Linked DNA regions of Homo sapiens: region 2 is linked to region 1. A link means that fine-mapping ties the variant in region 1 to the plasma level of a protein whose gene starts in the linked region. Region 1 holds a variant in brackets. A gene starts in the other region. All regions are shown on one strand. Distances are from middle to middle.

Evidence for each region. PIP is the chance, under the fine-mapping model, that this variant and not a neighbour inherited with it causes the effect. Protein levels are from antibody-based Olink assays in UK Biobank. Linkage for the fine-mapping came from a reference panel and not from the study's own genotypes, which makes the PIPs less certain.
Region 2: it holds the start of LRRC25, and the variant in region 1 is fine-mapped to the plasma level of the LRRC25 protein (UK Biobank, PIP above 0.99).

Annotation. Positions count from the first base shown.
Region 1 is chr19:48,327,037-48,336,416 of GRCh38, forward strand. It overlaps EMP3 (epithelial membrane protein 3 (MAM blood group)), which reads left to right. Exons shown (of 5, transcript NM_001425.3): 3 at 485-587; 4 at 2,316-2,456; 5 at 3,265-3,517. The coding sequence ends at 3,434. It overlaps TMEM143 (transmembrane protein 143), which reads right to left. Exons shown (of 8, transcript NM_018273.4): 7 at 6,972-7,161; 8 at 5,320-6,397. The coding sequence ends at 6,183. Among named protein-coding and RNA genes, the nearest start is that of EMP3, 6.2 kb to the left of the region's middle. RefSeq lists enhancers at 2,366-2,515, 6,222-6,957, 6,348-6,437, 6,448-6,497 and a silencer at 6,838-7,357. The variant A/G (reference allele first, on the strand shown) is at 3,315.
Region 2 is chr19:18,394,502-18,402,661 of GRCh38, forward strand. It overlaps LRRC25 (leucine rich repeat containing 25), which reads right to left and starts at 3,121. Exons shown (of 2, transcript NM_145256.3): 1 at 1,684-3,121. The coding sequence starts at 2,462.

The sequences.
Region 1 (9,380 bases):
TTTCATTTATTTTGAGACAAGGGTCTCACTCTGTCCCCCAGGCTGGAGTGCAGTGGTGCGATCTCGGCTCACTGCAACCTCGGCCTCCCGGGTTCAAGCGATTCTCCTGTCTCAGCCCCCCAAGTAGCTGGGATTAGAGGCACCTGCCACCAAGCCCGGCTAATTTTTTTATTTTGGTAGAGACGGGGTTTCACCATGTTGCCCAGGCTGGTCTCGAACCCCTGGCCTCAAGTGATCCACCTGCCTCGGCCTCCCACAGTGCTGGGATTACAGGCATGAACCACCAGGTTAACCCTTTTAGCTCTACCTCCGATGCCTCCTCCCTGTCCTGACCCTACCCCCTCTCATATTAAATCCTAACTCTCCCCAGTTCTGCCCCATCCCAGATACCCTGCCCTTTTCCCAGCCCTTCCCACAGTCTGCCTGACCCTATCCCCTCTCCTTTCCTAACCCTGCCCCTTGTTTCGTTCTCTGTCCATCCCAGTCCTGGTGGACTCTCCCTGGGAAAGAGTCCCTGAATCTCTGGTACGACTGCACGTGGAACAACGACACCAAAACATGGGCCTGCAGTAATGTCAGCGAGAATGGTGAGGGGTGAGGGCGGCGGGACTGGTCTTCAAAGGGGAAGGTAAACCCTTCGTGTCCTCATGGGACTGAGAATTGGGAACCCTCCCCCAACAAAGTTGGAGTGGGCGGGGTCCAGGCCTGAGTGGCTGAGTGCCTAGGGCTAATGCATGTCCCGCCTGTCTGGATGTACCTACCTCTTGTTTTTTTTGTTTTTGTTTTTTGAGACCGAGTTTTCCTCTGGTTGCCCAGGCTGGAGTGCAGTGGCGCAATCTTGGCTCACTGCAACCTCTCCCTCCGGGGTCCGAGCAATTCTCCTGCCTCAGCCTCCCGAGTAGCTGGGACTGCAGGTGTGTGCCACCACGCCTGGCTAATTTTGCATTTTTAGTAGAGACAGGTTTCACCATGTTGGCCAGGCTGGTCTTGAACTTCTGACTTCAGCTAATCCACCTGCTTCAGCCTCCCAAAGTGCTGAGATTACAGGCGTGAGCCACCACATCCAGCCAGTACCTCCTGTTCTGAAGAGGCCATATAGATAAAAGCATGCTATAGGTTTAAAGAATAGAGAGGGGAGGCCAAGGCGGGTAGATCACGAGGCCAGGAGTTCGAGACCAGCCTGGCCAAGATGATGAAACCCCGTCTCTACTAAAAATACAAAAAAATTAGCCGGGCATGGTGGCGTGCGCCTGTAGTCCCAGCTACTTGGGAGGCTGAGGCAGAAGAATCGCTTGAACCCAGGAGGTGGAGGTTGCAGTGAGCTGAGATTGCACTACTGCACTCCAGCCTGGGCAACAGAGCAAGATTCTGTCTCAAAAAAAAAAAAAAAAAAAAAGAATAGAGAAAAATCTCCCAAGATTCTGAGAAGACAAGAGTATTTTTCCAAAGCTCTAAGGAGATGGGGCTGGTGCTCTGAATGGATGCCTGGGACCATTTCATCCAAATTCCAAGGGGATGGGGCTGAAACCACTTAAGGTTCTAAAGGGGTGGGGCCAGGTGCATTGGAGTTCTAAAGGAATAGAGCTGCATCTATCTAAAGTTCTGTGTGAAAGATTTAATGCAAAACTAAGATTAAAGGAAGTGGTCTGCTCTCACCACTTCTATTCAACCTTTTACTGGAGTAGCCAATGCAAGAAGGCAAGAAAAAGAAATAAAGGGCATGGGAAATAAATTAGGAAAAAGTGTCTCTATTCCCAGTAAACATGTTGTTTATGTAGAAAATCCATTAAAATTCTGCAAAGCAGACAGACACAGTGGCTCACACCTGTAATCCCAGCACCTTGGGAGGCTGAGGAGGAAGGATCACTTAAGCCCAGGAGTTCAAGACCAGCCTGGACAACATAGGGAAACCCTGTCTCTACAAAAATTTAAAAATTACCCAGGTTGTGGTGGCTTGTGCCTGTGGTCCCAGCTACTCAGGAGGCAGGGGTGAGAGAATTTCTTGAGCCCTGAAGGACGAGGCTGCAGTGAGCCATGATTATACCACTGCACTCCAGCTTGGGCAACAGAGCAAGACCTGGTTTCAGAAAAAAAAGAAAAAGGAAATTGGCAAAGCAACTACTAGAACTGAGAAGGGAATATAGCAAGGTAACAGGGCTCAAGGTCAAAATAAGTGATACATCTAAGTATCTAGGCTTGTATGGGCCTAAACGGGAGCAGGGATGGGGCAGAGAAGGGTCACATGGTGAGCAAGCAGGTGAAGCTGGAACTCTGGACCCACGGTGATGTCCCCCTCTGTGTCCTCCTTACTGCAGGCTGGCTGAAGGCGGTGCAGGTCCTCATGGTGCTCTCCCTCATTCTCTGCTGTCTCTCCTTCATCCTGTTCATGTTCCAGCTCTACACCATGCGACGAGGAGGTCTCTTCTATGCCACCGGCCTCTGCCAGCTTTGCACCAGTGAGCACTGCCCCTCCCCAACCCTAATCCCCCAAGAATTGAGCAGAAGGGAGTGGGGTGTGTCAAGATGCTGGGGGCCCTGAGAATGGGCCTCTCGTAGAAAAAAACAACTTTCAACACCCCACGAGCCACAAGAGGTGCCTCCGTGGGCTACATCTCTGCCCCCAGGGATTGCTGGGACTTGTAGTTTTCAGTGGCTAATGATAGTTATGGCTTGTGCGTATGAGTCATCAGGGAACTCAGAGTTTCAGGGAGCCGGGGCTGGGGAAGGAGGTATAGGTAAATAGTTTTGGTCCCAGGGATCGGCCGTGACGTGGGGGGATAAACTAATTAGTACCTCAGTAGAGAGCTCTAAATCATAATAATAATGGTATTTATATCAGCCAACCGCTGTTTCTTGCGTGCCTATTGTGCATCAGATACTTCAAGAAGTTTTGCGTACTTTTTAATTTTTTGACTTAAGGTGCAAAGGGCTAACTTAATCACAGTCAGTTTGGGGAACATTATAGGTTCTTGCAAAGCTTCTCTCTTGGTTTATGAATTTACTACTGCATGTTTGGCTTATAGAAACACACTCAAAAATATTCCTTGGATGGATAGAGAGATATTATTGGACCTAGAGAGATTAAATCAGTTACCTAAGGCCGCGCTACAGTTGCACGGCGCTGGGCGGGGGGGAAAGAACCACAACTCCCAGCAGGCAGCGGCGCTGCCCACGGGCCCTCCGGCGCTTCTTTGCCCCCATGGGATATTGGGAAATGTAGTCTTGAGGGGGCACTGCATGACGTGTGGTTTTCATCTTCCGCAGGCGTGGCGGTGTTTACTGGCGCCTTGATCTATGCCATTCACGCCGAGGAG[A/G]TCCTGGAGAAGCACCCGCGAGGGGGCAGCTTCGGATACTGCTTCGCCCTGGCCTGGGTGGCCTTCCCCCTCGCCCTGGTCAGCGGCATCATCTACATCCACCTACGGAAGCGGGAGTGAGCGCCCCGCCTCGCTCGGCTGCCCCCGCCCCTTCCCGGCCCCCCTCGCCGCGCGTCCTCCAAAAAATAAAACCTTAACCGCGGGCTCTGCCTTGATCTTCCTTCCTTCCGCCTCCAGGGACCCAGGCTGCGCACGCTTGACCTCTCCTGAACCTAACATGGTCCCCACCGCCAGCTGCTCAGCCCTCAGAATGCCCATCTCCCAGCCCCCAACCCCTTCCTCCCGAGGACACAGGAGCCGGGACCCCAGGCACCTTTTCCCTCCCACAGACCCAAGAGCCTGGGCCTTCCCCGCTCAAGGCCCAAGAGACCTCTGTGAGGCACCTGAATCTAGACCTTCAGACACTTCTGGGAAGAACCTGGATTCTGGGTCCCAGCAGACCCTGTTAGGATAGGAAGCCTGCAGTGACCAGTCCTGTCTCCTTGCTCAAGCTTCTGTCACTCTGTTGCTCTCTCTCTCTGAACCCCGGGCATAGTGTGTGTTTCTAGATTGTCGGACTCTTTTTTTCTTTCTGTCCAGGTTGGAGTGCAGTGGTACGATCTCAGCTCACTGCAACCTCCGCCTCCCGGGTTGAAGCGATTCTCCTGCCTCAGCCTCCCGAGTAGCTGGGACTACAGGCACGAGCCACCACACCCGGCTAGTTCTGGACTCTTTTTTCTTTCTACTAACTTTCCATTTGGGAAGACAGCTTTCTTTTTCCCTCTAGGAAACCAGTCTCCCTCTCTCTCTTTTTTTTTTTTTTTTTTTTTTTTGAGACGGAGTCTCGCTCTGTCACCTAGGCTGTAGTGCAGTGGTGCGATCTTCACTCACTGCAACCTCCGCCTCCCGGGTTCAAGCAATTCTCCTGCCTCAGCCTCCTGAGCAGCTGGGATTACAGGCGCCCACCACCACGTCCGGCTAATTTTTGTATCTTTAGTAGACACGGGGTTTCACCATGTTGGCCAGGCTGGTCTTGAACTCCTGACCTCAGGTGATCCACCCACCTCAGCCTCCCAAAGTGCTGGGATTACAGGCGGGAGCCACCGCGCCCAGCCCAGTCTCCCTCTCTAGGGACTGAACATTTGGGGTCCTAGAGAGGGAGACTTCCCCTGTCTCCCCAAAGGCTGCCTCTAGCCCATATGACACGTTAGCAAAAATTAGGAGGCACCCCTTCTTCTGGCTGACCCAGCCCCACACCAGGATACATGTAGGGGTATGGGCTGGGTCTTACAGCCACCCACCCGTGGCTGTGTTCCTTTGTGCAGTTAACAATCTGCACAGGCCGGGTGCGGTGGCTCACGCCTGTAATCCCAGTACTTTGGGAGGCTGAGGCAGGTGGATCACCTGAGGTCAGGAGTTCGAGACCAGCCTGGCCAACATGGTGAAACCCCGTCTCTACTGAAAATACAAAAAATTAGCCAGGCGCGGTGGCAGGCGCCTCCCAGCTACTCGGGAGGCTGAGGCAGGAGAATCACTTGAACCCAGGAGGCGGAGGTTGCAGTGAGCCAAGATCATGCCATTGCATTCCAGCCTGGGCAACAAGCGCGAAACTCCATCTCAAGAACAAAAAAAAATCTGCAAATCTGCACAATCGCACATGGCTACGCTATCTCCTCTGTTCATCAGGCCCTGGGACTCCTCTGGAATCAGATCCTTCTAAGATCCTCTTCTATGACTGTCTTTGTTTCACCGACCATGAACCCAGCCTCTTTTTAGGACTACAGCTTTCTCTGTCTGGGACCCCAAGACCTAGCTAGAGTCCCTCCCCTCTTTCCAGGATTCAAATGCTTTCCTTCCCTCCAACTCCTGCAGCCATCCCACTCATCTAGATTTTTAAAAATAATTTTTTAACCACTCCTACAGAGCAGGGTTACCCTAAAGGCAGTGCGTTAAGAGTAGCCTCATCCAGACTTATTAAACATGATTTATTACTTTGGGACAGGAGACGGGAGAAATTGATAGACCAATAAATATTGCACAGGCTGCTGGTGGTGGGGAGATCCAGACCGAGGTAGTTTCTGTAGAAAGGGTGAAAGACCTGGGCGAGGAAGGCACCTGAGGTTGCCGGGAGCCAGGTTGGGAGCGAGTCTTGGTGGCGAGGGTGGTTTCTGGTTCACCTACCTAGCACAAGGTCTCCAACTCCTTCAGCCTAGACACCCTGATCAGCAGCTGACCAGTTGGCCTGCCATTTAAGCAGCAGCAATTGATAGCAAGATCAGGTTTCCTTTAGAAATTCTTATTGGTTCCTTCCCTGCAGCGACAACCGGCTGCCCAAAGTTGATGGAACCCAGCAGCTGTCACTGGACGTTTGCCAGGAGGCAGGGCTAACGGCCTTGGTGCACATGATGGGCAGTTTGCCCGGAGCGGGCTGAAAAAGACAATGATATATAGTCTCGGGAGGGCGCAGCTTTAACTCTTCTACCTGGCGGTTTACAGAAGCCAGAGCTGAGCAGCTGTGATTGGCAGACACCCTCAGCTCCTCAGCCAAACCACACTTGGATGTTTATGGTGAGGGTGGGACTAAGAAATGGAACAGAAGCAGAGCTAAATCGCTTTGATTGGCTGTTCATCGAAGGGGCGGGGAAGACTTAACAACTGCTAGCTGCTTTGATTGGCTGCTTTGCTTAAGCACACAGTGCAGCAAAAATAATCACCTGTCAGTTATTGGAAGTTGGAGTGAAAAGTATAATAACCGTAATTGACAGCCTGTCGTGAAGGAGGCGGGGCTTAGTTCCTAGCCTGCTGACTGGGCAGGGAGGTAGGTTCTACTCAGGAGATGTTACTGCTGGGCGTGGCTTGCGGGGGCTCGGAAGTGATCGGAGCCACTGGGTCTAGTTTGGGGAAACCCGGGGGTGGGTACAATCCCATGCTGGGGGTCAGGGCCTGCAGATGCGCCAGGGCCCGAGTTCCGTTGAAGGTCACCTCACAGCCTGACTTGGCTAGGAGCCAGTTCTCCACCTCCGACCGGAGCCACCTGGAGGTCTCTGCAAGGGGAGAGGCAGGTGTTCTGAGGTCACACTGAGATCGGGGAAGATTCGAGGGAGCAGCAAGGAGGGGCGTAGGGCAAAGAACAGGAAGGGCCTGGGTTTGGGAGAAGCCTAGGAGTGATCTTGAGGCTTGGAGGGGAGCGGAACAAGGCCCAGGAGGGTCGAGAGGGCCAGAAGGCCCAGCTCTGGGGCTTTCGTCTGGGGACCAGTCAGGGGCTCTTGGGCAGGGAAGGTGGGGGCTCCTGTAGGCAAGGGGACCACCTGGAGCCCACACAGGGAGCGCGCAGGATCTCTTGTAGGGAGAGTGTCAGCTCAGGTAGAGGAAAGAATGACAGGAGGGGGCCGTGCCATGGAGCCAAGACTCCCAACCAGGCTGAGGTTAAGAAAGGGCTGTCACATCAGGCACCAAGATCGGAGTCTGGATTCGGAGGTCCTGTCTGCTGAGGGCCGGGGTCTCTTCGCAAACCCGTCAGGTTCACCCGTGGGAACTGGGGGTGGGGACGCATCTCGCTGGGGCGGGGCCTCGCGGGGGTGTGGCCCCTGGGGGCAGGGTCCCAGGGCCACGTCCTACCTTCGGGCGAGCCTTGAGTGCCCCCTGGCCGCCGGGCCAGGAAGCTGTGAGCCAGCAGCGCCTCCTTGGTGTGCTCGTCCTGCGCGCGCAGGGCCAGGGCGCTGAGCAGCTCCGAGTTGTTGGACGTACTGCGATAGTACAGCATGTGCGCCAGCTCCAACGCCTGCGCGCTGCGCCGCTGCCCGAACATCTGCAGGCGGGACAGCGCCCCGTGGGCTCAGTTCGGGGTGCGCCCCCACCCATACACAGCCCCCGGGGTCACCCCCGCTGGCACGGCCCACGCCGCTTACTCCCCTGAGGAGGCGGGGAGGTCCTACCCAGACCTCTTCAGTACGGGTCCCCAGAGCTCAGTCGAGGGATCTATTTGGGGATTTTTGGGGTCTGTCTTTTCTTTTTCTTTCTTTTTCTCTCTTTCTTTCTTTCTTTCTTTCTTTCTTTCTTTCTTTCTTTCTTTCTTTCTTTCTTTCTTTCTTTTTCTTTCTTTCTTTCGTTCTTTCTTTCTTTTCTTTCTTTCTCTTTCTTTCTTTTCTTTTCTTTCTTTCTTTTTCTTCCTTCCTTCCTTTCTTTCTTTTCTTTCCTTTTTTTTTTTTTTTCGACAGGGTCTCGCCCTGTAGCCCAGTCTGGAGTTCAGTGGCTATTCACAGGCAAACTCATAACGCACTGAAGCTTTGAACTCCCGGGCTCAAGCGATCCTCCCGCCTTGGCCTCCTAAGTAGCTGGGACTACAGGTGTGCGCCACCAAGCCCGATATTTTTTGTAGAGACGGGATTCTCCCTGTGTTGACCAGGCTGGTCTCAAACTCCCAGCCTGGAGTGATCCTCGCTCCTCAGCCTCCCATAGTGCTGGGGTTACAGGCGTGACCCAAGGCACCGGCTGGGGATCTGTATTTTTAACACACGTGCCCTCATTCCAGTGGCTCCAAGACCACCAGCCCCATCTGGCCTACAGTTTTCAGCAACCACTGCACTGGTTTGCTCATCTGAGCCATGTATTAATGGATTTACCCAAAGGTTTGCAGATGATAGGAGTTTTAGCTTTGAAAGATTTTGTTACAATACATCCTTATGTTTTAGAGACATAATAAAGTATTTCCAAATAAGTCTAGGTAGGATTTACTTCAAAATCATCCAATAGTAGGACAGTGGAGGTCTTCAGGGGAAATCTGATTAACTATTGCTAATTGTTGATGCTAGGTGCTGGCTAGTGGAGTTTATCATACTATCCTATTTCTGTGTTTGTTTGAACTTTTCTATAATGAAGGAAAAAATGGTTTAAAATATTAAACTGTAGGCCAAGTGCAGTGGCTCAGGCCTGTAATCCCAACGCTGAGAGGCCAAGGTGGGTGGATCACCTGAGCCCAGGAGTTCAAGACCAGCTTGGGCAACATGGCAAAAGCTTCATCTCTACAAAAAATTAAAATTAAAAAACAATAGCAGGCTGGGCTCAGTGGCTCACGCCTGTAATCCCAGCACTTTGGGAGGCCAAGGCAGGTGAATCACCTGAGGTTGGAAGTTCGAGACCAGCCTGACCAACATGGAGAAACCCGTCTCTACTAAAAATACAAAATTAGCCGGGCATGGTGGCTCATGCCTGTAATCCCAGCTACCCGGGAGGCTGAGGCAGGAGAATCGCTTGAACCTGGGAAGCAGAGGTTGCAGTGAGCCGAGATCATGCCATTGCACTCCAGCCTGGGCAACAAGAATGAAACTCTGCCTCAAAAAATAATAATAATAATAATTAGCTGGGTGTGATGGTGAGCACCTGTAGTCCCAGCTACTCATGAGGCTGAAGCAGGAGAATCACCTGAACCCAGGAGGCTGAGGCTACAGTGAGCCATGATCATACCACTGCACTCCAGGCTGGGCAACAGAGTGAGACCCTGTCTCAAAAAAAGAAAAAAGTTAAATTGTAAAGAGAAGAGGAGAGGGGAAGGATGTTGGGGGGAAGAACAGGTCTGGGCCCAGCTGTCTACTGGCTGCCCACTTCCCCACCGTTAGTCTCTTTGCTTGGACCCCTCTTCTCATCCTTGATATTGGTAAGGAGAAATGAGGGCATCAGTGCCCTCTGGGCTCCCACTGAAAAACTGTGCCCAGGCCAGATGCAGTGGCTGACACCTGTAATCCCTGCACTTTGGGAGGATGAGGAGGGCAGATCACTTGAGGTTAGGAGTTCGAGACCAACCTGGGCAACATGGTGAAACCCCATCTCTACTAAAAATACAAAAATTAGACCTGGCACGGTGGTTCATGCCTGTAATTCTAGCACTTTGGGAGGCCGAGACGGGCAGATCACTTGAGGTCAGGAGTTCGAAACCAGCCTGGCCAACATGGTGAAACCTTGTCTCTACTAAAAATACAAAAAAAAAAAATTAGTCAGGTATGGTGACAGGCACCTGTAATCCCAGCTACT
Region 2 (8,160 bases), 30 Mb before region 1:
TCACCATATTGGCCAGGCTGGTCTCGAACTCCTGACCTCGTGATCCTCCTGCCTTGGCCTCCCAAAGTGTTGGGATTACAGGCATGAGCCACCGTGCCCGGCCTAATTTTTGTATTTTTTAGTAGAAACAGGGTTCCACCATGTTGGTCAGGCTGGTCTTGAGGTCCTGACCACAGGTGATCTGACCTCGCCTTGGCCTCGAAAAGTGCTGGGATTATAGGCATGAGCCACCGCACCCCACACCAACCTAGAAAAGTTCAACTCATTTGTCTAAGCCCAGCAAAATCATCCAGAAGCCGGTGGCGGTGGCTCACACCCATAATGCCAGCACTTTGGGAGGCTAAGACATGAGGATCACTTGAGGCCAAGAGTTTGAGACCAGCCTGAGAAATATAGCAAGACCCCCGTCTCTATGAAAAATACAAAAATTAGTTGGGTGCGGCGGCATGTGCCTGTGGTCCCAACTACTCTGGAGACTGAGGCAGGAGGATCACTTGAGGCCAGGAGCTTGAGGCTGCAGTGATCTGTGATGGTGCCACTGCACTCCAGCCAGGGCGACAGAATGACACTGTCTCAAAAAAAAATGTCGGCTGGGCGCGGTGGCTCACACCTGTAATCCCAGCACTTAAGGAGGCTGAGGTGGGCGGATCACGAGGTCAGGAGATCGAGACCATCCTGGCTAACACGGTGAAACCCCGTCTCTACTAAAAATACAAAAAATTAGCCTGGCGTGGTGGCGGGCGCCTGTAGTCCCAGCTACTCGGGAGGCTGAGGCAGGAGAATGGCATGAACCCGGGAGGCGGAGCTGGCAGTGAGCCGAGATCGTGTCACTACACTCTAGCCTGGATGACAGGGCCAGACTCCATCTCAAAAAAAAAAAAAAAAAAATCATCTAGTGGTGATGGGACTTTGTAGGGCACCTCTTTAGTATCTCATGTGTGTCATGGGGAAATGGGGGGCTGTCCCCACTCTATGGAGACAGAAATGGAGGTTCAGAGACAGCCTTGGGTCACATGGGACCTGGGCCTATGCTGCTGACCGCCACCGCGGAGCCCCAACTCCGCTCAAGCAGTTGCCTCCTGTCTCCCCATCCTTGGCCGCCAGAAACTGGGTTTACAGGTCATAAGGGGGGGAAGTTTGTCCCATATATGGGAACTCACTTAATTCTTACCCCAACACACTATGATGGGGGCTGTAATTCTCCCTCATTTTACTTTATTTTATTGATTTTATTTTTGAGATGGAGTCTCACTCTGTCACCCAGGCTGGAGTGCAATGGCATGAACTTGGCTCACTGCAACCTCTGACTCCCAGGTTCAAGAGATTCTCTTGCCTCAGCCTCCTCAGTAGCTGGAACCACAGGCGCCCGCCACCACACCTGGCTAATTTTTGTATTTTTAGTACAGACTGGGTTTCACCGTGTTGGCCAGGCTGGTCTCAAACTCCTGACTTCAAGTGATCCGCCTGCCTTGGCCTCCCAAAGTGCTAGGATTACAGGTGTGAGCCACCATGTCCAGTCCTCTCCCCATTTTATAGGTGAGGAGACTGAGGCTCAGAGAAGTAAAGCTACTCACCTAAGATCCCACAGCCTTCAAGCGGCAGAGCTGGGATTTGAACCTCGGCCATCTGGGTGTGGAGCCTTATTATTCACCACTTTGGCAGGTGTCTCAGTGGCTTACTTACCCTTGTTCATCCCACTGGTGCTCGGCTGCTGGCTGGCCCACAAACATGTTCTCATAGTCGGGAGTGGAGGGGCAGGATGGCACGGCCACTTGGGGCTTGGGGGCGCTCCGGCTGCCGTACCGTGGCTGCAAGCCTAAACCGGGCTTGGGCCCATCCTGAGCAGCCCAGGGTTTGTTCAGCTCCCGGCTTCTGGCCACTCGGCATCGCCAGAGTCTCCAGGCCAGCACAGGGCCAGCGATGGCAAGTCCAAGAAGCAGGCACCCGCTGACCACCACTGCCCCGATAGTTGCAGAGGCCAGGCCAGGGGCGCAGCTGACCTCCAGGAAGGCAGAGAGGTTGTGCTGGGAGCTGGTTGTGTCCCAGCAGAGCAGAGGCTTCTGGCCAGAGCAGTTGTCTCGGCGGATGTCGTGCCAGGACTCCAGGGCACAGTTGCAGTCGGCCTGCAGGTCAAGGTCACAGCGGGCGGCCAGCGCCCCATCCACACGAGACAAGGGGTTGCGTAGCACGTTCAGGACCTCAAGCTTCTGCAGGTGGGCAAAGAAGGTCACTGGAAGCTCTCGCAGGCCGTTCCCAGACAGGTCAAGGAGAATCACGTTGCTGGCCCGCAGAGACTGGTTGTGAGGCAGGCTCAGGCTGAGGCCACTGAAATTCAGGCACGTGGCACTGAACTCCGCGTTCCAGTCCACATCCGCGGAGGACACGGTGCACGACGGTTCTAGGCTGTCTGACTCCCGCAGCAGCAGCGGCAACAGCAGCGTCCATGCCAGGGTGCCCCCCATTCAAGCAACCTACGTAGAGACACCGGAATCCTAGCCCTGACCTCAGCCCTGTGGTCGCCCTCGCCTCCACCGCCAGTGTTTATTATTATAGCTCAGACCAGCTCAAGCCGCTTCTGAAATGGTAAAACGCAGCCCCAGTCTGGTCGCCTCCTTTGGCTGGTGGGCTGCCTCAGTCTCCCCTTCTGGGGAATGGGTAGATAACCCCAGTGCTTAGCGGGCTTGGAAGGCGAGGAGGAGATCCGGGCCAGTTAACCCCTTCTTCTATGTCCTGAACATTTGGGGCGCCCTCGTTGGCCAGGACGGGACCCTATGCAAATAAGCGGTTGCCTTGGAAACGGCCCCGCCCCCTGATCACGCTCCCGGTATCTCCCAGAACGGCGGGTCGCTGGGAAGTCCTGGGATAGGGTGGAGTGGGGGCTGCTGAAAGGGTCCTCCCAGGTCTGGTTTGCAGTCCCTGCACAGGTGCAAGTTCTAGAGCCTCAGTCCTACCTTTTGGGTCCCACTGCCACGCTTTTGCCTCTGCGATGCTGGAAAAGCGACGGCGCCCAGAGGCTGCGTCCTGGCCCACCTGGACACGGGGGCCGCAGCGGCCACGGCCAGCACCGTCCGCAGCGCTGCTGGGGTCGCTGGCGTTCCTCTGGCTCTGCACCCAGCGACTCAGGGGGAAGAGGAACTGGTGTCTGGGTGGAGTGCAGAGGGGAAGAATGAAGACAGAGATCCGCCCCCTTGCAGGGCCTCAAGGTTCTCACCAGAGGTGGATGGAGGGCAAGAGGGAGGGGTGGACCAGAGTCCCGCTTCCCTCTTGCTAGAACCCAGTGACTTCATGTCCTCTATTAGCACCCCAACCGACTGCCACCTCATCAACTCGCTTCTTGATCTCAGCTTGGCTGGTTCCCAGCTCATGCAGTCATTTATTCATTCAACAAGCATCACCCACGCTGGGCCCCCAAGAGGCCTCAGCCCTGACCAGGTCCTCAAGGAGCTATCTTAAGAGAGGACAGAGCTGGACATAGACACTCCTAGTCCCATGCAGTTAAGGAAGGTCCAGAGGGAAAGACAGGGTCCTGGAAGGCTTCCTGGAGGAGGAGGCATTACAGTTGGGGCTTCAACGCATGAGTAGGAGTTCACTAAGATTCCCCAAACCTATCATTGGCTCTCCAAGCTCCTCCAAGCCTCTCCCACTGAGTTCTTGCACAGTGGCACCTCTATGCTGGAGGGGACAGTGAGGAGGGCTCCCAGCAGCTTGGGAAAATGTAGCTGGCTGGGATAGCATGGTTAGGAGTGGAGAGGATAGAAGGAATTGGTGGTGGGGGAAGAGGTCCATGTGGAGCCAAGGCAGGTGCGTGGGCAGAGGGGCACTGGCTCAAGAAGTCCCTCTGGAGTGAGCCTGGTGTCTGGGGTGGGCAACTTGGGGAGGAGGCTGAGGTCCCAGAAGCAGATGGGGGCCTGAGGCAGACTGGAGGGGTAGTAGTGACAAAAATGATACTGAGGAGGGGTGGGCTGGGAGAAGGCCTCACCTGAACCTGGTGTCAGGTGGACCAGGTACAACCTATGCCAGCCCGACTCACTGTGCCACCTTAACTGCGTGTGACACCATGTCCACAGCTGTCAAATGCACAGAGGCTTCTCCGGGATCTGGGAGGCTGGGAGTCCACTCCCCCACGTTTTCCCCTCTTTTCGGCCTCTGTCCTTCACATCGCCAAACTCCAAGAAATGGTCAAAGGCTTTGAACGGAGACCTTGAAGAAAAAGCGGGAAACTGCTTTTCAACATGTCCAGAGATGCTCATTCTTGCCAGGTGCAGTGGCTTACACCTGTAATCCCAACACTTTGGGAGGCTGAAGTGAGCAGATCGCTTGAGCCCAGGAGTTCGAGACCAGCCTGGCCATCATGGTGAAACCCCGTCTCTACTTTAAAAAATACAAAAATTAGCCAGGTGTGGTGGTATGTGCCTGTAGTCCCAGCTACTCAGGAGGCTGAGGCAGGAGAATTGTTTGAACCCAGGAGGTGGAGGCTGCAGTGAGCCAAGATCACTCCACTGCATTCCAGCCTGGGCAACAGAGTGAGACCTGTCTCAAAAAAAAAAAAAAGTTCACACTTAATAAGAAAACTGCAAATCACAAACTGTTTGTCTTCACCAATCAAATTGGCAAAAATCCAACAATGCAATGACATTCTGTGCCAGCCAGGCTGTGGGGTGCGTCCATGGTGTAGCACTGGTGGAGGGCACCCTGGCACAGGCCACCGGAATGATAAACTCATGTGCCTGCTGACACAGCAAGTCCACTTCTGGGAATCCCTGCCTGAATATTTGCATGTTTACAGTGTGAACTGACTAACGAATAAAAAAATGTGGCTCAGCCTGGACGTGGTGGCTCATGCCTGTAATCCCAGCACTTTGGGGGACCAAGGTGGGCGGATCACGAGGTCAGGAGTACCAGACCAGCCTGGCCAACATGGTGAAACCCCGTCTCCACTAAAAATACAAAAATTAGCTGGGCATGGTGGCACGTGCCTGTAATCCCAGCTACTAGGGAGGCTGAGGCAGGAGAATCGCTTGAACCCAGGAGGCAGAGGTTGCAGTGAGCTGAGATCATGCCACTGCACTCCAGTTTGGGCGTTAGAGCGAGACTCCATCTCAATAATAATAATAATAATAATAATAATAATAATTTAAAAATTAGCTGGGCATGGTGGCTTCAGCCTGTAGTCCCAGCTACTTCAGAGGCTGAGGTGGGAGGATCCCTTGAGCCCAGAAGGTTGTGACTGCAGTGAGCCGTGATTGTGCCACTCCACTCCAGCCTATGCAGCAGAGCAAGACCCTATCTCTAAAAAATAATTTAAAATAAATGGCTGGGCCGGCCGCGGTGGCTCATGCCTGTAATCCCAGCACTTTGGGAGGCTGAGGTGGGCGGATCACCTGAGGTCCAGAGTTTGAGACTAGCCTGACCAACGTGGAGAAACTCCATCTCTACTAAATACACAAAATTAGCCGGGTGTGGTGGCGCATGCCTGTAATCCCAGCTACTTGGGAGGCTGAGGCAGGAGAATCACTTGAGCCTGGGAGGTAGAGTTTGCAGTTGAGCCGAGATCACGGCACTGCACTCCAGCCTGGGCAACAAGAGCAAAACTCCATCTCAAAATAATAATAATAAATAAATAAATTGGCTAAAATGTTCAATTTTATGTTGTGTGTATGTTGCAGGTTTGTTTTTTTGAGAAGGCAAAGTCAGGCGTGGTGGCTCACACCTGTAATCCCAGCACTTTGGGAGGCTGAGGTGGGCGGATCACAAGGTCAGGAGACTGAGACAATCCTGGCCAACGCTGTGAAACCCTGTCTCTACCAAAAATACAAAAAATTAGCTGGGCGTGGTGGCATGTACCTGTAATCCCAGCTACTCGGGAGGCTGAGGCAGGAAAATCACTTGAACCAGGGAGTTGGAGGTTGCAGTAAGCCTAGATCGCGCCACAGCACTCCAGCCTGGTGACAGAGCGAGACTTCATATAAAAAAAAAAAAGAGAGAGAGAGAGAAGGCAAAAAGATGCTCCAGGCTCAAAGTGATTCATTGCAGCATTGTTTGTTACATGAAAAAAAATAAAATGGGCCGGGCACAGTGAGTCATGCCTGTAATCCCAGCACTTTGGGAGGTCAAGATAGGAGGATCGCTTGAGCCCAGGAGTTCAAGACTAGCCTGGGCAATATGGTGAAACCCCATGTCTACCAAAAAAAAAAATTTTTATATATATATATAGATAGATATACACACACACAAAAATTAGCTGGGAGTGGTGGCACATCCTTACAGTTCCAGCTACTCGGGAACCTAAGGCAGGAGGATCGCTTGAGTCTGGAAGGCAGAGGTTGAAGTGAGCTGAAATCGTGCCACTGCACTCCAGCCTGGGGTGACAGAGTGCAGAGTGATCCTCTGCCTCAAGAAGAAGGAAAAAAAAAAAAAGGAAATAACTTAAAGGATTGGTTACATTAGTAACAGTTCAGTTCATCCATCCTAGCATGCCACAAAGTTCTGAAAATGAAATTATAAATCTCTATGAACCTATAAGGAAAGACTCATTCATTTCCTCTGTAAGCCTTTATGAAGTTCCTGTTGTATACCAGGTACTATGAACCACAGACACAGCAGTGAATAAAACAGACAAAAATCCCAGCCCCCCCTCCCCCCACCTCTCACTGTAGTTGGGGAAACAGACAACAGGCAGAATCCATCGGGAAAATATATCAAGTGCAGGTGGTGGGAATGCTGCAAAGAAAAATAAGGGCAGGAAATGAGATGGGAAACTTTTATTTATTTATTTATTTATTTATTTATTTATTTATTTATTTGAAACGGAGTTTTGCTCTTGTTGCCCAGGCTGGAGTGCAGTGATGCGATCTCGGCTCACTGCAACCTCCACCTCCCGGGTTCAAGCGATTCTCCTGCCTCAGCCTCCCAAGTAGCTGGGATTACAGGCGCATGGGACCATGCCCAGTTAACTTTTTGTATTTTTAGTAGAGACGGGGTTTCACCATGTTGGCCAGGCTGGTCCCGAATTCCTGACCTCAGGTGATCCACCCTCCTCAGCCTCCCAGAGTGTTGGGATTACAGGCGTGAGCCACTGAGCCTGGCCGCAGAAGCAACTTTTCAATGGGATGATCAAGGAACCCCTTAGGGAGTAAGGAGGAAGGGATGTGGGGAACAGCATCCAGGAGTGGGAACAGCATGTGCAAAGGCCCTGTGGTGGGAGCAGCCCTGGGTAGAGAGCAGATGTCTCCAAATGTTTGTTCAGGCTGCTATAACAAATATGCCGTAAACTGGGGTAGCTTATGAACAACAGTTCCGGAAGCTGGGAAGTCCAAGATCAAGGCACCAGCAGATTCACTTCCTAGTTTGCAGATGACCGTCTTCTCACTGTGTCCTCAGTAGACAGCAGAGGGAGCAGGGGAGCTCTTGGGGCCTCTTTTATAAGGAGCAGAGGGATGGAGGAGCCCAGCCAGCAGTGAGCCTCATGCAGCTGCACGTCCTCCACGCCCAGTTCTGAGGCCTCTTAGAAAAAAAGGAAATAAAGAAATGAGGAAGTGCCAGACCCGAGGCTGCAGGTGGTGGGGGACAGGCAGGCCTGGGGTCTGGGATAGTGAGTTTTGGAGGTGGGTCTGGGGGAGCCGGGGGCCTTGGAGTCTGAGGTCTGTGGGGTCCTGAGATTTGGGGACTCTGAGGTCTGGGGATCCAGGGGTCTGAGAGTCCTGGAATCTAAGGGTCCTGAGGTCTGGGGGTCCTAAAGTCTGAGGATCCGGAGGTTTGGGGGTCCTGGGATCTAGGGGTCTTGGGATATGGGGGTTTGGTGGGGGGGTATAGGGGTCTGGGGATCCAGATGTCTGAGAGTCTTGGGGTCTGGGGGTCCAGGGGTCTGGTGGTTCTGAAGTCTGGGGATCCAGAGGTCTGGGAGTCTTGGGATCTGGGGGTCCTGCAGTCTGGGGGCCCTGGAGTTTGGTAGTCCTGGGGTCTGGGATGTAGGGAAAAGAAAAAGCGATCAGACTGTTACTGTGTCTATGTAGAAAAGGAAGACATAAAAAACTTCATTTTGACCCATACCCTGAACAATTGCTTTGCCCTGAGATGCTGTTAATCTGTAACTTTAGCCCCAACCTCGAGCTCACAGAAATATGTGTTGTATGGAATCAAGGTTTAAGGGATCTAGGGCTG